4 linked regions of the Homo sapiens genome follow. The protein of the gene in region 4 interacts with the protein of the main gene of each other region in a pairwise test. Each region holds a gene or a part of one and is shown on either strand. Other genes may lie near its edges. The genes, in order: RBBP6, CACNA1A, CCDC33 and KHDRBS3.

What was found.
Region 1: the proteins of KHDRBS3 (region 4) and RBBP6 interact in a two-hybrid assay, tested with the Homo sapiens proteins (one study listed by BioGRID and IntAct).
Region 2: the proteins of KHDRBS3 (region 4) and CACNA1A interact in a two-hybrid assay, tested with the Homo sapiens proteins (one study listed by BioGRID and IntAct).
Region 3: the proteins of KHDRBS3 (region 4) and CCDC33 interact in a two-hybrid assay, tested with the Homo sapiens proteins (2 studies listed by BioGRID and IntAct).

What each region holds. Positions count from the first base shown.
Region 1 is NC_000016.10:24,563,544-24,570,581, reverse strand, and holds part of RBBP6 (E3 ubiquitin-protein ligase RBBP6), read right to left. Parts: intron 6,973-7,038; coding exon 6,918-6,972; intron 5,786-6,917; coding exon 5,717-5,785; intron 3,440-5,716; coding exon 3,077-3,439; intron 2,791-3,076; coding exon 2,689-2,790; intron 1,838-2,688; coding exon 83-1,837; intron 1-82. UniProt on the Homo sapiens protein: E3 ubiquitin-protein ligase which promotes ubiquitination of YBX1, leading to its degradation by the proteasome.
Region 2 is NC_000019.10:13,205,904-13,209,479, forward strand, and holds the end of CACNA1A (voltage-dependent P/Q-type calcium channel subunit alpha-1A), read right to left. Parts: coding exon 3,409-3,576; intron 3,107-3,408; coding exon 2,853-3,106; intron 2,151-2,852; coding exon 1,410-2,150; 3' UTR 539-1,409; downstream 1-538.
Region 3 is NC_000015.10:74,330,315-74,336,668, reverse strand, and holds the end of CCDC33 (coiled-coil domain-containing protein 33), read right to left. Parts: coding exon 6,315-6,354; intron 6,007-6,314; coding exon 5,918-6,006; intron 5,689-5,917; coding exon 5,557-5,688; intron 5,467-5,556; coding exon 5,373-5,466; intron 3,991-5,372; coding exon 3,824-3,990; intron 3,449-3,823; coding exon of another isoform or gene 3,347-3,448; intron 2,789-3,346; coding exon 2,702-2,788; intron 1,695-2,701; coding exon 1,581-1,694; coding exon of another isoform or gene 1,497-1,580; exon of another isoform or gene 1,173-1,496; coding exon of another isoform or gene 1,158-1,172; exon of another isoform or gene 745-1,157; coding exon 616-744; 3' UTR 528-615; downstream 1-527.
Region 4 is NC_000008.11:135,579,454-135,586,491, reverse strand, and holds part of KHDRBS3 (KH domain-containing, RNA-binding, signal transduction-associated protein 3), read right to left. Parts: intron 4,615-7,038; coding exon 4,419-4,614; intron 1-4,418. UniProt on the Homo sapiens protein: RNA-binding protein that plays a role in the regulation of alternative splicing and influences mRNA splice site selection and exon inclusion. Binds preferentially to the 5'-[AU]UAAA-3' motif in vitro.

The sequences.
Region 1 (7,038 bases), on a different chromosome or scaffold from region 4:
TATAAAAAGCACAAGCATGGATAAAACTGAAGAAAATCCTTCTCCCAACAAAGTTCCACACCCACCCCCTACACTCAGCTACCTGGTGTAATCCACCAGAGTTGAGCTGGATCCTTCAGTTCCAGTCACTTTTCGTCTGACCTTTCCTTTGACTTTTTCTTGTTTAACTTTGCTAGATGTTGACTCCAATTTTTCAGAGGGTTCTTTTGTGTTTGATATATTTTCTGTACTTCCAATTTTCTTCCCAGTTTCTCTGTTGAGTTTGATTTTTTTGGCTGGCGCACTTAAAGAAATTTTGTCCTTTTCAGGGGTCCTATCCATTTTTTCAGTATCAGGTTCCATTTTGCGCTTTGGTGATGGTTTCACTATTTCAGTCACTTCTAGTTTCGAGATTTTCATTGAAGAAGACTCAAAATCTTTATCTACGCCTTTTTCTTCAGTTTTTCTTTTTCTTTTTTCTCCCTTATTATCAAGTGGTTTGTTTTTCTCATTAGGCTTCTTGGCCTTTTCTTCCTTAGTTGTTAGCTTTTCTGATTTGACATCTTTGGAATAGTCCTTCTTCACTTTTTCCTCTTTGACTGGTTTTGTTTCTTGGTGTTCTTTTGCTGATTTAGAGTGAGCTTTTCTGGGGGTTCCAGTGATTTTTTCATCCTTCTGAGAGGAAGATGATGATTTAGTATTGTCAGTCTTCGGAGTCTCCTCTTTGGCTTTTTTAATTGGAGGTTCAGATCGAGGAGATCTCTCACGTTCTCCATCTACTTTTTCTTGGGGTCCTTTAGCAGGTTTTACAATATTTTCTTTTTTGGACACAGCAGATCCATCATTCTTCCGTTTGGTTTTATCACCCTTTGCTTTTGGTTTATCCCTTTCTCTCTTGTCTTTTTCAGACACTGATTTAAAAGTGATTGATTCTGCATCCATTGGTTCATCTCTAACAGGTGTGGCATCATCTCTACTTGGGAGAACAAACAATGAGTCTGTTTTATTTTCTTCAACACCTGTAGGTTCTCTTGATTTCCTAGAAGTCTCTAATAACTCTGGGTTCAGAAAACCCTCACTTTCCTCCCCTTTTCTTCTTTTTCTGTGTTTCTTATGCTTATTTCCTTTACCATCTCCTGGAGCGTTTTCACTCTCCTTCTCTTTTGACTTTGTATTATCCTTCTGATTGTGACCATCTCTTGCTGAAAGCTTTTCTGGATAGTTGCTACCTATGTTTCGACTTCTATGACTTTGCCCACCAACATAGTCTTCTCTGCGGCCTCTTGTGAAGGGAGAATTCCTGATGTTAAGTGGCAAAAATCTCTCTGGAGAAAAGTTCTCTCTATTTGCTGAGGGTCTAGGCTGTGCTCCAGCAGCATAACCTTTATAATATTTTTCATACCACTCTCTATATTTTCTCTCCCATTCTCGGTAGCGTTCTTTTTCAAATGGGTCTCTAAAGTCAACACTTCTCCCATAATATGCTTTCATGTCATATGGTGGTGGAACTTCTCTGTATCTATTAAAATATTCACGTTCTGTTTCCCCTTGAGGTACATTACGTTTATTAGGAGACTGTCCCCTAAACGCTTGAGGAGATCTTGATCGTGAATGATAGCGTCTGTAAGGGGGTGACCTTGACCTAGATCGATGATATCCATGAGATCTAGACCGTGAACGGTAATTGCGGCTCTTGCCTCTGCCTCTTCTGGGGTATGGAGGTGACCGTGAATAGGAACGAGAATGTGAGCGGCTGAATGATCGAGAATAAGAGCGTGAACGTGTTGAACCAGATCTTGATTTAGAATAAGTATATGAACTTCTTGAATACGAAGAACCACTATAGGGAGATTTAGACCTAAAAACAAAACAAAACAATAGTTGATAGTTGAGAAATACATACAAAATAAAACACAGACTCTCAGATTCTAGCATTCTTTCCTCACGGTTTCATCTATCTTTATATCAAATTTCATCTTAGATGATTAAAGAGGCACAGTGACCTCTACTGGAATGGAATAAAGTACACAAATCGGAGCAATCACTTGTTACAAAACAAAAGTGAAGTCTTAACAATTAGAGTGAAGTGCATTAATGTACCGTGAGTTATATGAGCTAACTAACATTAAACAAAATGTCAATTAATTTTAAATTTCACTTCCTATCTGAATATTGAAGTAGGAGTCTGTTTTTTGTCCTATACTGGCCAACAGCCTAGTTTTAAAAGAAACCACATTTCAAGTGTAAGGCTAAAAAATAAAGTCTTTTAAACAAACTTCCAGGGAATTTTTATAATTCACTTTTTCTATCAATAAAGCGATCTGTATTCTACTACTACTTCATAATTACGCAGGTTAATGTTCCAGCAAGAAGCTGTAGCCTTATGGTAAAAGGGTCCTGGGAACTGTTTTTTGGCTATTCCCCTATTTCTTTCCTTCCAAAAACATTTCCCAATTATTTGATACTATGAATAACTTTAAGGGACAAGGGCAATTTAATCCCCACAACTGTTAGTTCTACACAATAAAATTTACACTGAGACATTATTTCAATGAACAGATATTGGGAAATAAGCTACATCTTCACTTCTATACACCTAGACCGAATCAGAAAAATTCCTAAGTGCAATGTTCTTTATATCCATAGCTAATCCCTGGATATTCAAAGTCCCGTTTGTAATTCTGTTGTGAAGGCTTGCAAAACACTAACCTGGAAAATGAGCGCCTACGCTCCTTTTGAATCTTTTTGTATTCCATCAATTCCTTAGCAAAATCATTTGTAAACTCATCTAGCTTGGACTTTTTCTTTTCCCTAGTAAAATAAAGTTAAAGAGTGAAAGTTAACAAAAACCATTTAAGAAAACTAACAAGACAAATGTAATTAGATCATGAATGAAATGAATGAAATTGCCATTAGTTTTCCACTTTAAAACTATAAACTAGGAATCCCTGAGAAGTTGCTTGTATGGCTTTGGTTTAAATTTTAGGTGAATTTCTCATACTAACTGGAAACACTGGAAAACGTTTCCAGACACCTATTTAATGTTATTATCAGAAAATGAAAAAAGTGTATAATAATTTCAAATTAGAATACATACTCTTCTTTTAGTCGTCGCTGCTCTCTATAGAATTCTTCCCTGGACAAAGGTGGTGCTTGTGTTGTTGGGATGGTATTTGAATGAGCTGTCTGCACTCCTGATGATACCCAAGGTGTTGATAAATTGGCAGGAGCTGGAGGAAACCCTGGAGGAGGGACACTATACCCAGCGGGTGGTGGCTGGCCAGGAGGAAACTGAGGAGAAAACTGTGGAGGAGGAACACCCGGAGGGAGAGGAAGTGTATGGGGAGGAGGCGGATACAAAGGAGGTGGTGGAACAGGTACAAAGACTGGAGTTGCTGGTAGTGACGGGCCTTGAGTCCTCTGTGATCTTTCGCTGTGGTGTCGCCCACGGTTTATACTTCTGGAAAAATAAATTCCAAGATATTACTTCTTCAAACTAAAGTCATCTGAGACAAGTAAGCTTATCTCTTCTATCCATAATTATTTTCAAACTTAAAAACAGTGGAATAGAACCAACTATTCAACTAGTGTAGCAACATTAGTACAATTTATTTGTAAAAATAACTCTACAACATAATTTTTAAGGCCATGTCTCGACTGAGATGATGCAAGTTTATAGGACCTTCTCTACACGGAAATATTGTATTTAAAAGTTCTCTTTTATGAAGTTCAGACTGATTATCACTCCACTAATTACTACCTGTTACTTCCTAAACTGTCTTTTGAAGGCACTGACAGGTTAATGCTGCTATGACCTAGCTCTCCCCAAAAGCTTACTTATTCATTTATTTTTTATTTTTTGAGACAGAGTCTCACTCTGTCGTCCAGGCTGGACTACAGTGGTGTAATCTTGGCTCACTGCAACCTCCACCTCCTGGGTTCAAGCGAATTCTCCTGCCTCAGCTTCCCAAGTAGCTGGGACTAGAGACGTGTGCCACCATGCCCAGCTAATTTTTGTATTTTTAGGAGAGACAGGGTTTCACCATGTTGGGCAGGCTGTTCTCAAACTCCTGACCTCAGGTGATCTGCACAAAGTGCTGGGGTTACAGGTGAGAGCCACCACACCTGGCCCCAAAAGTTTAAATGAAGGAAAACCAACTCCTGTAACCTCTTTTTTGAGGGAGGAAGTGGGTAAAGATCATACAAAGCAGAATAAATTCTAGTTTTAACTTCTATAATTAACAATGAAAATATCAACGCTTTCTCTCAAAAGCTTAAGTAAAAATAACAGTGTTGGCTAAGTTTCTAATTTGTGCCTCACCAAACAGAACTGGTTACTTCTGTTAAACTAGAGGTGCTTTAAATTATAAATAATTGGTACACAACAGCAACAGTAGGGGTTTAGATTTTAAGCATCTTTTCAGTGAGCCATGAATAACTATTACCTTCTTTTAAAATGTGATCCAGTAATGACATAGTAAACTTTCATAAGTTTAGCAATGAAGCACTAGAAGATATCCCGAATTTCCTTCTTTTTGGAGACAGGGTCTCACTCTGTCCCCTAGGCTAAAGTGCAGTGATGTGGTTATAGCTCACTGCAGCCTTGACTTCCTAAGCTCAAGTGATCCTCCTGCCTCAGCCTCCCAGGTAGCTGGGACCACAGGTGCATGCCACCATGTCTGGTTATTTTATTTTTTTGGTAGAGACAGAGTCTTGCTATGTTGCCCAGGCTAATCTTGAACTTCAGGCCTCAAGCAATCCTCCCCCATCAGCCTCCCAAAGCTCTAAAATTACCAGCATGAGCCATTATGCCTGGCCAAAACTCTTGTTATGAAGTTTTGGAGGCTCCTTTATCCTGGTGGTGATTATGACCTAGACTAGCAGTTCTCAACCGTTTTGGCACCAGGGAGCTGTTTTGTGGAAGACAATTTTTCCATGGACGGGGGCAGGGGGGTAAAAACTGTTCCACCTTAGATGATCAGGCATTAGATTCTCCTAAGAAGCGTGCAACCCAGATCCTTTGCACACGCAGTTCACAACAGGGTTCATGCTCCTATGAGAATCTTAATGCCACTGCTGATCTGACAAGAGGTGGAGCTCAGGTGGTAATGCTCGCTCAGCTGCTGTTCACCTCCTGCTGTGTTGCCCAGTTCCTAACAGGCCAAGGATGGATACTGGTCTGTGGCCCAGGGTTGGGGACCCCTGACCTAGACAGTAAGATTCTTACTTCTTAGATTAATATTGCTTGTACCCGCCCACTAGGGCAGGAGCCTCTAACAATCTCCTGTCTCTTCTTTTGGAAAAGAGACGGTGGGAGATGATTGGGACAGTGGGGTCTAGAAGAGAAATAGTTGCAATTCTTGTTCACAGTTGGGAGCTGAGCTTGTTAACTTTAATCTTAAATTAAACTGGTATCTTAGATATTGTCTGACCCCTGACTTTCTTCTACTTCCAAGAGGGTAAATGCAAGCCAATACTCTGCTGTTTGCTGACAGGGAGAAAGTAATCACTGGGAAGGAATATTAAAAATGTCTTAAAAACCATCATTTAAGATACTATATATAATTTATTCTTTTCTAGCCCTCTTTAAGGACAACTACCCAGGACTTAAGAGGGATAAGCACAATACAAACAAATGACCCCCTTCCTTCCTGCCACTGCTGTGCTTTAATTTCTTTGGTGAGATATATATATAAAAAATAAGATGATTATTTTCCAAGATTTTTAGCATGCCTACCTGTAGCAGCTCCTCTCCCCTCTTCTAATTTGTTGTGGTGGAGAAACCAGATAGCCAAGTTTGTTGGAACTGTGTGGGAGAAAAAAAAATAGGCTCAAGTATTTCTCCATGGGTATAATACATGACCTTTCCATGCATAGCTGTTAAGACACCAATTTTAACTACTCTGAAAACTTTTTCCTACTCCCCAGTTCTTAAATTTGTTTCGGATACAGAGCTGAGTAAATATTATATTTACTTAAAACTAACTTTCCCCCACCAATTAACTGTATCATAACAATAACTAGACCTCAAAATAGATTACTTTATGTAATATTATATTTTAATTAGCACTCTATAAATTACTCTGTGAACTTATTGTTATATACAAGGAAAAGAGCCCTTTTGTCTGCTGGGCACAATGAAGTCATTTTACATGTTAAGGTAGGTAGTGTCATTCCAAATCCAAACGAGGAAATGGATGTTAGGGAGTAAAACCACAAGACCACTGTCATGCAGCTAGGAAATGAAGGAGATGGGATTCAAACCCAAGTCTACCTGTTTCTAAATCCTATGTTCCTTCTACTGATACATCCTGCTAGTAACTCATACTTTTAAGAATATATCAATTTTCAATCGGATTATATAAACAGAAATAATTATATAACTAAAAATACATTAAGTAAGTCTGCTGATTTTTAATGCCATAAAATATCCCACAGAGAAAATCAAAGTTCTTTGTATTTTAGGGTGGCAAGAACAACTCGATTTCAGACAAAAAATTTTTGTTTGGTAGACGTTAATCTTATTATGTATTTATGTACTCAAATCAAACTTTGATCATCCAAATTAAGGGTAGAAAAAGTTAAACCTACTAGGAAAATAACTGCCACCATATTTAAAATAACTTTTCAAGTAATTCTTATCTATTCATTAAACTGAAGTCCTGTCAAGATCCCCATTTGTTGGATATGAAAGTAGAAAAAAACTTTTAAAATTTTGTATTTTAGAAAAGATTTGCTCATTTAAAAAAAACCCTCATATAAGCTTGAATTTTGACATTTTACATAAAAAATGTTAATCTGGCACATGAAAGTTTACAATAAAGAGCAGCGACCCGCTGCCTAGTTTGGACCTTCCATTATCTAGTTTGCCTAGTTTGGACCTTCCATTATCTAGTTTGCAGGCAATCATCTGAAGATTATTGTAAACATCTACTCACTGTTCCCAGCCTGGTCGACCACCACCTGGACGAGCAGTATTTATTCTTACTGGACCTAGAAACAAAAAATAAAAGCAGTAGGTAAATACAAAATTGCACATTAAATCAAGCTAAAATTATT
Region 2 (3,576 bases), on a different chromosome or scaffold from region 4:
GGCGTTTCACTATGTTGGCCAGGCTGGTTGTGAACTCCTGACCTCATGTGATCCACCCACCTCGGCCTCCCAAAGTGCTGGGATTATAGGCGTGAGCCACCGCGCCCTGCCTTTTTTTTTTTTATTTTGAGACAAGAGTCTCATTCCGTCACTCAGGCTGGAGTGCAGTGGTGGGATCTTGGCTCACTGCTAACCTCCGCCTCTCAGGCTCAGGTGATTCTCATGCCTCAGCCTCCGGAGTAGCTGGGATTACAGTTTGTGCAACCACGCATGGCTAATTTTTTTTGTATTTTTAGTAGAGATGAGGTTTTGCCATGTTGGTCGGGCTGGTCTCGAACTCCTGACCTCAAGTGATCCATCTGCCTTAGCCTCCCAAAGTGCTGGGATTACAGGCGTGCATGATGCCCGGCCTCCTTGTCGCTTTCAAACAGTGCTTCTAGGAGCTAACAAAGAAGTGCCTCTTTGTATGATTCCCCAAGAGAGACCCACCCAGGCAGCACCTAGCCAAGGGACAAAGACCACTCCTATCCAAAAGCCCTTTGATTCAACTTTTTTTTATTTTTTTTTTCTTTTTGAATGTCATGCAATAATTCACAGTCCCAAGCCCACGGTTTTCAAACAAGGTAGGAAAAAAGGAAAAAAGAAGCAAAGGAATCGGTGGTGATGGTGGGTTTTTCTTCTTCTTTTGTTGTTTCAAGCAGGACCAAATGTCAGAAAAAAATGCCTCTTTTCTCAATCATTAATTTTTTTGTCCTTTTTAAAATTGTTTATTGTTATTATTATTTTTTTAAATTGATTTCTGCAGGCAGTAATAGTAGGGTTTGGTATAACCGGCAAGCACTCTTGTGTGTGTCTGAGAACGTGTGTGGGTGTGAGTGTGTCTGGTGGTGGGTGTAGGGCACTGGGATTCTGGTTCCTTCTGGCTTCTTTGCCGCACTCGGCCACCAGCTGTCTTCATCAGGGAAAGGAAAGATTCAATTGAGATGATAAAACTCATCAATAGAAGCTATTTTTTTCTCCCCGTTTTTTCTTTTAAAAATGTTTTTTTTTTTTTTTTTTTTTTTTTTTTTCATGTTCCCCAAAGTTCTCCAAAAATGGCTGAGTTAATTCAAATCCCTTGGCTGTGTGGTTTGTCTGCTCCCTGCCTCCCACCCGAGAGCCCCTGTCGTGGGTGGGGGGATCGGGGCTGGTTGGGGGGCGCCGTGGCTGCCCAGGAGGGTCTCTTTTGGCCGAGGGTCTCTGCGGGACACCCTTGTGGCCCAGCCCTGGCCTCTCCAGAGTCTGGGGTCTCCCGGCTGGCCCTCTCCCGGGCCCTCTGTGCTGGGCCCCCGCGGCCTCTGCGCGGCTCCTCGGGTGGGGTGTGTGCGTGGGGTGCGTGGGGGGCCGGGCGGGCGCCACCTCGCCCGGGCTTAGCACCAATCATCGTCACTCTCGCTGTAGGGTTCGTGCAGGCCCTTCCTGGAGCCCGGCCCGCGGGGCCTGGCCAGTCCGTGCGCCGGGTAGTAGCCGTTGGGGAGTCGCCGGCCGTGCCGAGAAGGCGAGGCGCAGGCCGGGCCCGAGGCCCGGGGAGTCCTGGGCGAGCGCCCGGTGGCGCCCGAGGACGCGTGTCGTACGGGGGGTGGCGCGTCGTAGGCCCCGGCCATGGCCTCCTCGCCGCCCCCGCTGCCCGGGCCATCGGCCTCGTCGTAGTCGGAGCCCCGGTAGTAGCCATGGTGCCGGGGACCCGGGGGCCCCTCGGACACGTGCGGGCCAGATGCCGGCCACCGGGCCCCGCCGTGTCGACAGGCCCTGGGGGACTCGCTCCGGGCCGGGCCTGGGACCCGCCTCTCCATCCTGGGCGAGCGGCCGCTGCTGTGGCCCCCCGTGGGCGGCCGATCTCCGGCCAGAGGCTCGGCCGTGGGGCCTGGGTACCTCCGAGGGCCGCTGGTGGCCGCCCGGCCCGGCCTGGCCACCGCCTGCTGCTGCTGCTGCTGCTGCTGCTGCTGCTGCTGCTGCGGGGGCCCCGAGCCGCCGGCCTTACGGATCACAGGGGAATAGGACACGTGTGGCCGGGGGGTGGAGGGGGTCTGGGGGAGCTGGCGGCGGCCCCGCCGCGGAGTGCTGGTACCAGATGTTGAGGGGGCTGGGCTTCCACTTACGGAACTACTGCCCTACACGAAAATTGAAACAAAGGAAATCAAAAAAAAAGATACAACAAAATCAAAGGAGACACGGGATTGGGAGGAAGAGAGGGGAGCGAAGGGAGAGGGGCCGGGAGGAGAGGGAGGAGGGGGAGGGGGAGGAGGAGGAGGAGGAGGAGAGGGGGGACACAGGACATTGAATGGAAAAAAGCAACAGCCACAGGGAGGAGGGAGGGGAGGAGGGGGAGTGAGACAGGGAGGGGAGGAGTCGAAAACCAACACAACAAAGTGAAAAGAGAAATGAGAAATGGAGTTTTGTAAGTTTCGGGGTTAAAAATAGCAGAAGTTTCAAAAATTACTCACAGGCGTCCAGAGGACAGAAATCATAATTGAAACAAAAACAGAAGCCGGGTTAAAGGAAAGTGAAAGGTCGGGCGGCACGGCCCAGAACTCAAATATGATCCACAACCGAGGAGCAAGCAGCTGCGGGCGGCGGGGAGGGGGCGGCGGGTGGGCAAGGGGGCTGGGGGGACAGCATAGGCAGCTGGTGTGGTGGGGATCCGTGTCCGCTCCGGCCGCCGGGCACCCCGGTGGCTTGGGGGCAGGATGGGAGGTGGTCACAGCCGGGATCCGGGGACCTTTGCCTAGAGTGGCTGTTGGATGGGGTATCCCCTTCTCTCCTCCCCGCCTCCCGGCCGAGCCCAGCCTGGGGTCACTTGCAGCCGCACCCACCTGCCGGTGCGCCATGTGCTCTCGGCCCTCGCTGGGCGAGCGGGACCAGCGCTGGTCCCGAGCCCGTGCCCGGCCGTGGTCCGGCCGTTCCTGGGCATAGCGGTCCTTGTCGGGGGGCGGGGGATGGTGGTGGTGGTGGTGGTGGTGGTGGTGCTGTCGATGCTTCCGATCCTTGGGCCGGCCCCGCTCCTGGTCCCGCTCCTTCGACGGCAGGTCCCCGGATTGGGTGGTCATGCTCAGGTCTGTCCCCAAGCCTGGGCCGGGTGAGGGTCAGACAGACACACAGGTGGTCGTGAGGGAGAGGTGGGGCAGATGCACACACAGGAGGCCACCTGGAAGGTGTGGGGGCCCTAGAGATCCCCTGAACCGAGGCAGGTCAGTGGGTTGGGGGGAGGGGGTAGTACCCAGGTTCCTGCAGCTGCTGCCTGGCCCCCTCTGTCCCCTCTCCATGGAGGCCTCTCCCTTTCTTCTTCCTTAGTGTCTCCTCCGCCCTGCCTTCTCCTCCCCTCTCCTCTCCTCTGTTCTGCTTGTCCCTGAGCACCACAGGGCTGCCCACCTGTGTCCACATCGGTGTAGCGGCCCAGGGAGCGCTCAGAGGCGCGGTGGCTGCGGTCGCGGCGCCGCTGGTGGTGCCGCTGGTTCTCCTCGGGCGGGACCCGCTCCAGCGAGTAATCGTCCAGGCGTCGGGCCTTGGGGCCCAGCACGGAGGCTGAACGCTTCATGG
Region 3 (6,354 bases), on a different chromosome or scaffold from region 4:
ACCTGGGCCTCCTGACTCCCTGTAGGTGCCTCCTTTCCCCTGGCCCAATCTGCTCTCCTGCCCCGGCTACATTTGGACACATCATTGCCAGCTCAGCCTAGTGGCTTAATGGAGTATTTCACAATGATACGTGACTGCCACAGGAAGGCTTCAAGCCTCCAAGTCTTTCCCTTTCCAAGAGACAGACAAACCAAACTTGAAAGAAGGAATATCAGACATGATAGATGTTTTGGGGCAGATGAAAAGGACAAGCCTCCCTCGTATTTCCCAACAGAGCTGGTCTCTGGTGGCCTTGCTTCTTCTCCGGGTCTGGAAGGGGCCCGTCTCCCTGGCCCCTGCTTTGGAAGGCCTCTTCTCTCCACCCTCCTGGGTCCACTGTGGCCCTTGGCTTTCCAAAGATGCTGGCTCCTGGGGCAGGCGGGAGGCTGTAAGGCTGCAGCAGAAGACCCAGGCCCAGGCCCAGAGTGAGGTCTAGGAGGAGGAAGCAGGGCCCCCAGGCTGCCCTGCTCCAGGAAAGAGGAAAATGCTCACAGAGCTACAACATTTAATAACGTCATTTTTAGGGGGCGGTGATGAGACTCCCCAGCACACAGGGAAGGAGGCCTGCTCTGGGGCTCAGGTCTGCTGAGAGTTAGCGGTCTCCTTCTGGGGGCTCAAGGGCTTGTTGAGCTTAGAGTCTGAGCTGGGCAGCAGGGGCTCCAGCTCTGAGGGCTGCTTGAGGTCCATGGAGTGGGTGAGGGCACTCTGTGGTGTGCAAAGCGGGGTGCGTGAGTACCCCCCATTCCCAGGGGGTGACCTGCTCAAGGGCATATTGCCTGACAAACCAGGCCTCAGAGTATCCAGAATCCAGTGGGCCATGACCTGGCAAAGATTTCTAAACCCATTTTGCCACAGCAGGTGACACCTAATTTCTCCAAGGGTCCCCAGGGCTCAGGTGAGTGTGCAAAGGTTGCCTTTGTTCCTTGCCTGTTCCCTCATCCTTTCCAGGCCTTTCCCAGGAGCCGCTGCTGAGCTTCTGGCCACGGGCAAAGCACAGCTGGCTCAAGAGCAGGAGAAGTCAGGGTCTTTGCTTTGCGGGGCTGGGCGGTCCCGGGGTTGAACTTGAGGGGCAGTTGTGAGCAGGCCTGTTTGTTCTCGGGAAGTTGGCAAAGTGGAGCCTACATCGTGGCCATCTGAGAAGGGTGTGCTAATTTGAGAATCTTAGGCTCTATGGATTCAGGGGGGTAGGGCCACAAGCTACTCTGCCCATGAGCGCAGCCAGTCCTAAAGCACAGTGTCAGGGCATCCTGGAGATGCCTGCATGGACCCCTCATCCACAGTCATCTCCTTGAGTTTCACAGCACCCCATGGGGGAAAGGGTAGTTTTGGCAGGGGTTTTCTGTTCCCCTTAGACAGGTGGGGGAATTAAGACCGAGCCTTCGGTTGGTAATGGAGCAGGAATGGGAGCCTAGGACTCCTGACCCCCAGCCCTGGAGTTGGCTCCACAATGGCTTTTCTCAGGGCCCAGTGACTTTGGGGGTGCGGTGGCTTCCTGCTCCACCACCTGAACCCCTGGGAGCTACTCCAGGGGGGTCACTCACAGGCTGTTCTATGATGATGGAGTTCGAGGGGTGCCTGAAACCTTTTTCTTGCTCCTGCAGCCGTGTGGCCAGATCCTGCTTCTCTCGTCCCCAGCGTCGAGCTGAGTCCTCTAACTGCAGACACAGAGAGGGACAATTGGAGGACCATGGGCAGCAGGGCTAATCCCTGATGGCCAGGACAACCAGGGCCTGAGCCTGCTGTCCAGGCAGAAAGCAAAGCTCTGGGCCATGTGGGCTTGACACCTTCCCGAGACCTCAGGGGTGGCGGGGTGAGGGTGAGGGGGCCAAACAGTCAGGCAGCCTGACCAAGACACAGATGGACATTTCAACAACATACTGAGCTCTGATCCTGAGTCCACACTGATCCCTGATTCTGGTCATAGACAGAGCCTGACCCTGGTCACACAATGAACCCTGACCCTGGATATACACTGAACCCTAACCCTGGTCATACACAGAACCCTAACCCTGGTCATACACAGAACCCTAACCTCGTTGTACACGGAACCCTGACCCTGGTTGCACACTGAACGCTGACTCTGGTCACACACTGAATCCTAACCCTGGCTGCACACTGAACCCTGACCCTGGTTGTATACTGAACCCTAACCCTGGTCGCACACTGAACCCTGACCCTGGTTGTACACTGAACCCTGACCCTGGTCACACACTGAACCCTAACCCTGGTCACACACTGAACCCTGACCCTGGATGTACACTGAACCCTGACCCTGGTCACACACTGAACCCTAACCCTGGTTGTACACTGAGCCCTGACCCTGATTGTACACTGAACCCTGACCCTGGTCACACACTGAACCCTAACCCTGGTTGTACACTGAACCCTGACCCTGGTTGCACATTGAACCCTAACCCTGGTAACACACTGAACTCTAACCCTGGTTGTACACTGAACCCTGACCCTGGTTACACACTGAACCCTAACCCTGGTTGTACACTGAGCCCTGACCCTGGTTGCACACTGAACCCCGACCCTGGCCACACACTAAGCCTTGATCCTGGTCATAGATTGAGCCTAGACTCTGCTCACACACTGAGCCCTGGTTATAGGCTGTGTGGTGAGCCTGATCCAGCCTCATCAACTCCTGCATCTCACCCACCTGGCTTTCCAGGGACAGGATCCGGCTCTGAGCGTGTTCCAGCTTGGCCAGGAGGTTGAACTTGTCTGAAGTACCAGAGAGGAGATCCTGTGGGCAAAGCACAAACTCACATTTGGCCCCAGCTGGAGGCTGTGGCAGTGTGAGCTTGGGAAACCATAAGGTATTGAGGAAGAAACCAGTCAGGCCTGAGTTCAGACTGAGCTCCCGAGGCAGAGCGTCAGACCTGGGCCGAACCCTCTTCTGGAAGTTCAGAACAGGGTCTGGCATGTGCTTTTTTCACAGCTGTTTCCCACACAGATTTTGAGAATACGAAGTTTTGACACAACATTTTTTTTAATGTAAAATGCATTAGGGAGCCCCCTATAATTAACGCACTGGGAGTCTTTGAGTGAAGTGAAGAACCTGTGAGGCAGTTGACCTCATCCCTCACACTTTACCTGGATGTCCATGAGTCAGGTGTGCTTTCAACAGAACTCACCTCCGGCGAGTCCTGGGATGGAGAGAAAACTCTCCTGTGCCCCTGCCCTGCCCAATATTCTGTGATTCCAAATGTTCTGCTTTGGGGTTTATGTAAAGCAAGGGGCCCCTGAAGCATCTTCAGAGGTGGAGCAGGGCCTGGGCATTTCTGGGCCCTGGGCCACCCACCTGTGCGGGCAGGGTCTCTGTGCACTCTGAGTGGCCTGGGCCATGCGTCTCTTGTAGCCTCTCTGTCAAGTCTCCTCCTGCTCCCAACTCCCCGGGGTCCACCTGGGATGGAAAAGGGCTCTCCAAGGCTGCACCAAGACCAGGGAATGCTCCAGAAGGGAGTTTTGAGAGGCCTGTGTAGGGTCCAGGTGGAGGCCAGCCAGGTGAAAAAGGGGTCAGGGTTCAGGGACCAAGGGTCAACAAGGGGCTTGCTTTCTCCTGGGATGCTAGATGAGGTTAAAGGTGAAGTGTTCGGGGACACACATTCCGCAGGAGAAAAAGACCAAGGCCTGAGAGCTGATTCCAGGAGCCCCCAGGCAGACTGGAGACCCTGGGAAGCTTAGCTCCTGGTCTTGATCTTCAACTTGGGTTGTACCATGGGTGATTTCTGGGCACCCAGTGACCGGCATAGGCAGGCCCAGGTCAAGGGCCTCTTACCGGCAGGGCCTGTTGCTGCAGAATGATGGGGGCCTGCTGGTGGCGGTTCTTATCCAGCTCCGTCCGCAGCTTCGCGTTTTCTGCCAGCAGCACCGAGTAAAGTTCAACCGGCAGGTTCTCTCCCATAGAACCCAAGGGAAGGCCAGAGGCTGAGAGCATAGGGAAGCCTAGAGACACGGCCACAGATGTTGGTGAGATGGGCTCTCCTGCTTCCCATGTCCCTGTCCTGATCTGCTCCAGCATTTTGCTTCAATCTGCCACCCCTCCCCTCTACTCCCAAGCCTTCAATGGCTCCCTACCACCAGTGGGATCAGGTGCACACAGGCTGTCCTTCTAGGCTCTTTAGAACCTGACCTCAACGTTCTCTCTAACTCCTCATTTGTCTTCAGTGTATTTCAGCTCCTCACCTCTCTCTCTTCCTCCCTTCTCTGATCCTGGAATTCTTCTCACTCCCTGGGCCTTTGATCTGGCTGTTTCCCCTCCCTAGGTTGCCTTCTCAGTCTCATCCAGACTCCTGGATGACCTCAGGCTTCCTGAAAGGCCAGCCCAGCTTTCATTGCATTCTAAAGGCTCCTAGAAACACCCTCCTGCCCCTGAGACCCTCAGCGGTGAAGGCTAAGCACAGGGCTGGGCACACAGGGGCCCTGGGTGAGGTTGCACAGGCAGGCTCAGGGAAATCCCTTGCTTTGGGCTGGCCTGATATGGTGTTACCTGGTCCTTTCTGCTTATCAGAGGCTGATTGGCAGTTTTAGGTGGCTTTTGGTTAATATCGATGGGGAAGAAAACCTCCAAATCATTTATTTATTTATTTATTTTGAGGCGGAGTCTCCCTCTGTCACCCAGGCCGGAGTACAGTGGCACAATCTTGGCTCACAGCAACCTCTGCCTCCTGGGCTCAAGTGATTCTCCTGCCTCAGCCTCCCAAGTAGCTGGGATTATAGGTGCCCGCCACCATGCCCAGCTAATTTTTGTATTTTTAGTAGAGATGGGGTTTCACCATGTTGGCCAGGCTGGTCTTGAACTCCTGACCTCAAGTGATCTGCCCTCCTCGGCCTCCCAAAGTGCTGGGATTACAGGCATGAACCATTGCGCCTGGCCCCAGATCATTGATTTAATCAAAGTATTTTTGTTTGTTTGCTTTGCAGAGGCAGAATCTTTGGCGGTATGGGGAAATAATTCGACGGATCCTGGGGCTAGGAGCTGGGAAGTGTTGCCCCAGGTGGCCCTTCTTCAGGGGAAGGCCCTCTCTGCTGTGCTAGTCTGCAGGGCCCTCCTCTGGAGGTCCACCCTCTTTCTAGCCTGGCTCACACTGCATCCCAATTGTGTTCTGAGGGGCTTCCAGGGAAGGAGGGAGCTCAGGGGATCTCTGGATGGGGCGCCTGAATGAGGAGGGGAGCAGGGCAATCCTGGGTCTCCCAGGCCCACAGACATAACTGAGTGCAGGGGACCTCTTCGCAGGTTCTCCTGAAGCTGAGAGGCTCCAGGAAGGCAGGGCCTCCAGGGGTGGAGCAGAAGCTGGGGAGCTGATCACATCAGGGTGTGGACCCACCCGTGTAGGGCTTTCCCTGCTGCCTGTTCAGAGGAGGGGGCTTGCTCCTGTCCTGCAGCCTGTCCTCCAGCACCCGCTCCATCTTCTCGATCACCTGGAGAGCAGAGCAGAGGCTGGGCTGGCCCAGGGGCTCCCTACTCTGCCATCATCAGTTGGCCTCGGGGGCAGCCCCTCTGCCACCTGCCTTCTCTTGGTGCCGCACAGTCTCCTCCAGCGCCTTCATCTTCTGCAGCTTGCCCTGGTACTGCTTCAGCAGAGCGGCCTGTGGCTGCTGGGCCTGATACAGAAGGAGCAGCTCCTTCTCTCGATCATTCTTCTGTGAGATGGGGGAGGAGAGAAGGGGAGAGAATGGGTGCCTGGGAGTCCACCTTGGCCCTGAGGGTCCACCTCGGCCCCTCTGCTGAATCCTCCACCAGGCTGGTCCCCCTTTCTTCCGTGCTTCCATTCCCTCTGTGCCTGTTCTCCCTTCTCCTCCCAGACTCTTCTCACCCCGATGCTCCCCCACCATAGCTCCCTCCCCTCTGCCCCCACAAGCCCCAGCTCACTCGAATCAGCTCATTCTGCAAATGCTGCACCCTGTCCCTCAGTTTCTTCATATCCAGCTCACTCAGCAGCAGTTTCTGCTTCATGGACACTGTTAGGTGGGTTGGGGAGCTGGCTCAGGGAGGAAGCCTCTCCCAGCTCAAATCAGCATGGTCAGTAGCAGGAAGGCAGATATCCCTTGGCCCGAGGGCTTGGGACGGGACTGGATTCTCTGTTTCCCATCCCTGAGAGGACCCAGCTGGGCAGGGACTGTGTGAGTGTCTGTGGGCGAGGGGCTCCTATTTGCCAGAGTCCAGCAGCATGCACATCTGGGAGAAGCTCCCAGCCACCCTATTGCACAACCTGGAGCCTGGGCCCAGGCAGAAGCCCGGGTGCCCTTGGTGGCCTGCACATCCTCACCCGTGTTCTGGGCCTCACTGGCTTTGCCCTGCCCCTCTTC
Region 4 (7,038 bases):
AATTAGTGAATTGCAAGGAACACAGAGGTTATTTAATTCAGTGTCCTATAATCCCTTTTATGGCATTTCTGATGAAGGGAACATGCAGCATCTGTTACACTTTCTCCAAAGATGAAGAGATTTTATTTATAACCTCGGCTAGTGGAACACTGTTTTTTTTTTTGGTTTTGTTTTTTAAAGCACTGGTTTTTCAAGACAGAACATAGGCCTTGAACTTTGAATCCTGAATCTGCTCCTTCTTTACCAGTCCTGTGACTTTGGGCAAGGCACTTAACTTCCCTGACCTTAAATTCTCATTTGTACAGTAGAGATCATAGTAGGTGGTTATAAGGAAAACGTGACATATATCAAAGTGCCTTGTGGAGAGCAGTTTCTCATCAAATATTACATCCTTCTTTAAAGCCCCTTTTTATACTGAGATGAGATTTACAGTAGGTTTTTCTGTTTCCTTCAGGAGCTAACAAAATTAATCTTATTCATTTGTAACCTGTGACTACCCGTCCAGTGCTAGAAGACAACAGTAACTTAGGAAAGTTATTTTCTCAAATACTATCATATTTCTTCCCATCACATGCTTTTACCAGGAACTTAGAAAAAATCAATGGTAATCTTCATCTGAACAATGTTATCAAGTCTCTGTATAGGGTTGGTTCAGTCCAACGAACATTTACTAAGTGCTTACAATGTGCCAAAAACTGAGCTAGTAGCCAGAGATTAACCTAGAGATAAAGAATTTTTCCTTAGAAGTTAATAATCTTTTGAAAACTGGACATATTATGATTGTTCTACATAGCTATATACTAAATACTATGTTACATAAAAATTGCTATGTGAATAAAACTGAAAAATCACACAGAAGGCATCTGTGGTGGGTTCTCTGCAGGAGACAATTTTTAAAAACCATCTTGTGACCATTCATTCATTCATTCAGTAAATATTTACTAAAGACCTACTATGTGCCAGACATTATATACTAGTTATTGGGAATAAAAAGGTGAAGTGTGGTGGGTGGGAGGAAGGGGAGGCAGGGGGAGAGTGCCTACCCTCATGGAATTTAGAATCTAATTTAAGATGTTCTAGTTCCATGTAATAATTTTAGTATATTCAAAGATGGCCAACTTTCCCATTTGATGCATGAATGAATAACCATTTATTTGTGTTACAAGCTCCTTGGTTTTCTAAGTTGGGTATCTTATAATACACCCACCCTATCTAAAATCCAAGAAACAAAGAAACGATTTTTCTTTTTTTTTTTTTTTTTTTGAGACGGAGTCTCGCTCTGTCACCCAGGCTGGGGTGCAGTGGGGCGATCACAGCTCACTGCAACCTCCACCTGCCGGGTTCAAGCAATTCTCCCACCTCAGCCTCCTAAGTAGGTGGGTTTACAGGTGCGCACCACTACACCCGGCTAATTTTTGTATTTTTTTTTTTTGGTAGAGATGAGGTTTCACCATGTTGGCCAGGCTGGTCTTGAACTCCTGACCTCAAGTGATGTGCCCACCTTGGCCTCTGAAAATGCTAGGATTACAAGCGTGAGCATCGTGCCGAGCCCAACATAAAAAAATTTTTTAAGAAGAATTTACTTCCCATTCCCCCTACCATGCTGCAAAACTAAGCGTGATGGGTGAGTAATCTTTAGGTTTTCAAACAGTTGAGACCAATGGCCAAGGTCTGAAGTTATGCCAGAGGTTGCAAGCTGTATTAGAAAAGTTGGAAGTAGAAAACTGGGTCAGTGGAGGAAGATGAGGTCAAACGGGTATCTGCAAGGCAGTGCTACTGATGGCAAGCCACTGTAAGCAAGCTGAAGGGCTTTATCTACTCCTTATACCAAGTACCAGCAAAGTTTGTTATATACAGTGAAGCTTTTACTATACTGAAAAAGCCACTGAAGCTTTTACTATAACTGTGCCAAGGCAGCTCACAAAATGCTAAGCTAAATGAGGAAAATCTTTTCTCTTGACTAGTAATCTTAAAAGGCACTGCCAGGAATAATAGATGCTAAATTAAGTGGGAAAGCTATAACGTTTGTAATCTGAACCCTTCATGATGATAATTCAACTCGGGGAAGGAGGTGCACTCATGATGGTATTTCTTTTCCTTTGGTGTCCCACTATACCACCCAAAGCACACCTGGAAAGCACACAGCTGTTTTATGTATGCAAGACTTGTAATTGTATGAAGCTGATAAAATTGCAAATACTGCATTCCAGCCAAATTACAACACTGGCGGATATGACCGTCAGTTATTTGAAGGCAACGCTACCATGTGACAGAAAGAGCACTGGCTCTGTGTTGAAATCACAGCTGCAGTAACAGTCAGTGCCTGGAAGAGTGCCAGGCATGAGTGAGTGTGGGAATCAAACAATGAAGGTTGACTTTTTCCTTTAGAGCTCTTAAACCTTTGTCTGGTTCTGGAAAAACGCAGGTAATCTTCTACAGGGCCATTATCCCATTATCTTTGGTAGCAGATGGAAAAGGGAGTAAATTAATCCTACAGAATACTTCTCAATTCAATTGTTTTAATGCCTTTCCTATCATTTACAAAAATAAAAAATAAATAAAACAATCAAAAGTACAAGCAGCAAACCCAAATGTCTTGAATGTCTCTTGCTTTTGCTTTTCCTCCTTTGGACTTTAACCTTTCAAGAATTTTTCAGTTTTATTAATCTATATAATTTATTTCCAGACTCTAATAATTAGAGTATACATGCTGAGACAGACAACATGTGTGTCTGGCTCACACGGTAGAAATCCAATCTTTATTGAATGGAAAGATGAATACATGTAATGAAGGCAATAGTTCTTTCTGAAATAAGTGGATTATGAAGCCCAAAAAGTTAAATATCTTGCCCGATATTAAAATTTATGGTAAAATGGGGTATAGGATCCAGGTTTCCCACACAACCTGCCTGGCAATTTCTACTACATCATCCAACCACATCTGTATTAAATCTAAACCTAAGAAATCAATGTAAGCCAAAGTGGAAATGAACAGACACTGGGCCTACCTAAAAGGAATTTAAGATTTACTCTCCTTTAGAGTCCCTGATACTTTCAGGAGACTCAGCATTTATGGAAGAGCTGAGGCATAATTATTATTGTCATCTGGTAAGATTATTAGGAAGTAGGAACACATTTAACTGTAACGAATTCAAAGAGAGGAAACACATCCTTCCTCAGCTGAATAACAAACTTGTAAAACTATTACGGGATTTGTTAAAATATAATTCAGTGGGCTCCCAGTATGCACTCTCTCCCAAGTATAAAGAGATAAAAGCTATCCATTCCTGCCCTTCCAGAGGTTCACAAGCTAGGTGGGAGAGAGAAATGTAAGAACTGTAGTAATGCTCAACAGGTTAGCTATTACCACCTCTAAATTTCCCTAGCAATGATTGACCTACGTGTAGAAGGACACAAGGAGACAGTCAAATGAAACATAAGAACACCATTCTAGGCTGAGGAGGCAGTATAAGCAAAGGTCTGGAAGACTAAGATGACACAGAATGTTCAGGGAATTACAAAAACTTAAATATGTCCAAGACAAAGACTTTGATCTTACCAGTGGCCACACAGATGAGGTTGAAGAGGTTGTCTGAGGCCCAGGGGATTATTGCAACCTTCTAGAAACTATGCAAAGAGGCACAGAGCACCTAGCAAGAGATCTCTCCTAAAGTAAAACAATGAAAACCTACTGATACTTGCATTTTATCATTGTTACTGCTTCCCTTTCATTGACAATGGTTCACATACACTTACTTTAACAATTTCAATTATTAATATGAATCACCTATCCATTGCTTCTTATTTTCTTCATTTATGGTAAATGAGGACATCAAAGAATTCCCTTCCCCCTCAACTTTCACGGTTATTATTCTCTCTTACGTTAAGTCAGTCTATGAATTATATCAAAGAATCGCTGAATGATAAATGAAAAACTGATTTGCACTAATTGAAAATAGAGAACTTTTGTTTTCTTTACTGAAAAGAATTTCCACTAAGAATCCATACTCAGCAGAGTAGCTTAAAAGGAAACAGTTAAGGCGGAAACCATCTTGGTATACGCAGGCAATTATTTTTTAAATGACTGAAGTATTCAGGAGTGAAATATGCAAGAATGTTACATTAAATTCCTGTAAGGGCTTGAAAATATGTCTCCTGAACCTTAGTCTTACACCTCCCCACCACCCAAACTCCTCTTCCATACCTTAGATTTAAACTATTTGATGAAAAAGATCAGGCCATTTTTATACCTCTAGTATTAAGTACTTCTTTAGCACTCAATAAATATTTGCTGAAACAAAGTAGAATACTCAAGAACCAAAACAAGGTGAGGAAGCGTACGCGGGTACAATATCCAGTGCTAAGTCTGGATTAAGTCAATCTGATGAACAAGGCTGTTGTCTGACACCTTCACTTACATATTCTCCATAAGTCTCTTGTGTCGGGGGTGGCGGTGGAGGTCTGTACCCAGTTGGGGGGACTCCTCTTGCTCTGGGAGTGAGAAGTCCTCTTCCCCGACTCACTGGCCCTCGGGTGGACAGGACTCCTCTGGGAGTTGGCGTCCCTCGTGGTACTACAACTCCAACTGGCCGGGCTGTAACTCCTCCCCTTCCCCTGTAACCAAGAGAGTCAAATTAGCAGTATCTATCATAGTCTCTAACATTCTGTTATTCACATATATTTATACCTCAGAAACAAAATCAATGTTCTATATTTTTGTAAAAAGGAAGAAGGAAGTCACAAGCAAAGAACTAAAGCAAACATGAAACAGGTGTCTGTCAAAAGGAAATTAAGGCATTTAGGCAGTTCGTCTAGCAACAATATAGAAGTCTGGAGTTAATCTCTGGTCAATACACAGAGTAGGAAACTGTGATATTTGGAGAAGCCACATGCACCCAAGACTTCTATATAATGCCATGCCAGGATTACACCCAAACTTCACTCCCACACTATGAGGTGTGCCTTTTCTTGCTTATCTCAGGACAAGGAAACTGAGGCTCAGAGAGATTTTAAAACTGTCTCAGAACAGCTGTGAGCAAAGCCAGAGGCCAAAATATATGCCAAAATTCCACCAGAGAGACAATAAAATATACTTTCCTGAATAATGTGTCAACCACATGGTAATAAAACAACATTCTTAGGTTAAGTAAACACAGGCATTTTCTGAGGTAGAATTCAACATATTCATGTATTTCTAATGTAAATCATAAGACTTCAAGTCAGGAAGGAAGGAGATGGCTCTATCAAGAATGGCTCCACAGAAGCAAAAACCTGAGAAAACATAAGGACAGAAAAGTGTGGCTACCCCAGAGAATACAGACACAGCATGATGACCTCATCTGGATAAGGCCCTCCAGGAAGAACTGCAGCTGGCAGGCTGGCTGCCTACAGATCAGCTTCCTCCTTCTTCAGTGTGTCTGGGATAGCAAATACGCAGCTAAAGACTCATTTTCCAAAAATAGCAAATTATCAAAACCCAAAGCTGGACTTTGAAAAGACTGATGAAATTGATAAACCTCTAGACAGGCTAAAGAGAAAAAAAAAGCCCAAACACCAATATCAGAAATGAAGAGGGTTTTGGCCGGGTGTGACGGCTCAGGCCTGTAATCCCAGCACTTTGGGAGGCCAAGGCAGGTGGATCACCTGAGGCCAAGAGTTCAAGACCAGCCTGGTCAACATGGCAAAACTCCATCTCTACTAAAAATACAAAAATTAGCTGGGCACGGTGGTGTGTGCCTATAGTCCCAGCTACTTGGGAGGCTGAGCAACAACAATCACTTGAACCCAAGAGGCTGAGGTTGCAGTGAGCCAGGATCACACCACTGCACTCCAGCCTGGGTGACAGAGTGACTCTGTCTCAGAAAAATTAAAAAAAAAAAAAAAAAAGAGAGAGAGAGAGAGGAAGAGGATTTCATTATTTTTGACCTCAAGGACATTTAAGAATAATGAAGAAATACTATGAACAACTCCAAGCTCACACATTTTTTAACTTACATGAATGTGACTGATTCTGATTCATAATGACCAACACAAAGAGAATTAAATAATCTGAATGGGCTTATGTCTATTAAATAAATTTAATCAATAGTTAATGATCTTCCAAAAAAGAAAGCATCAACTCCATATGGTTTCAATGAATTTTGTCAAATATTAAAGAATGAAATGATACCAGTTCTCTATAATCTTGTCCAAAAAATAAAAGCAGAGGGAACACTTCCTAACCCAATCTGTGGGGCTGGTCATTGGAAGTGCCTCGTTCAAAGTATTTCTACATTACTCATCAGAGGCTGGGACCAGTCTGGGCCAGCCAGGGAGGCCAGAGGTGACTGTCCCCAGCCTATTCTTGAGCACTGGTTGGGACCTGACAAAGGAAGTATCTCTCAAAATACTAAATCACCCTCAGAGGCTACAACTGGCCAGAGATGGGGAGGAAAAGCATTAACAGGTGCCAGATTTGTGACCAGCCCAAATGCTCTGTGACCTCCTTAGAATGAGATGTGGTCTGAGGGGGAACAAGAACAAGGCCTCCTCATAACCAATGTGGATAAAGACAGTCTAAAGTGAAGAACTAGAAATCAGCATCTCTCATGAACACAGGTACAAAAATCCTCAAAACTATTAGCAAACTCCATTCCATAATGTGCTAAAAGAATTATACACCATAACCAAGTAGGATTTATTCCAGGTACATAAGGTTGATTTAATATTAGAAAATCAATGTAACCCACCACATCAACAAGGCCAAAGTAGGAAAATCATGTGATCATATAAATAGAGCAGAAAAAGCATGCGGCCAATGGCGACATTCATTCATAACAACTTTCAGTAAATTTCCTCAAGTTGAAAAAGAACATCGGGCAGGAATGGTGGCTCACACCTGTAATCCCAGAACTTTGTGAGGCCAACATGGGTGGATCACTTGAGATCAGGAGTTCGAAACCAGCATGGCCAACATGGTGAAACCCCGTCTCTACTGAAAAAAGACAAAAATTAGCCAGGCGTGGTGATACACGCCTGTAATGCCAGCTACTCAGGCTG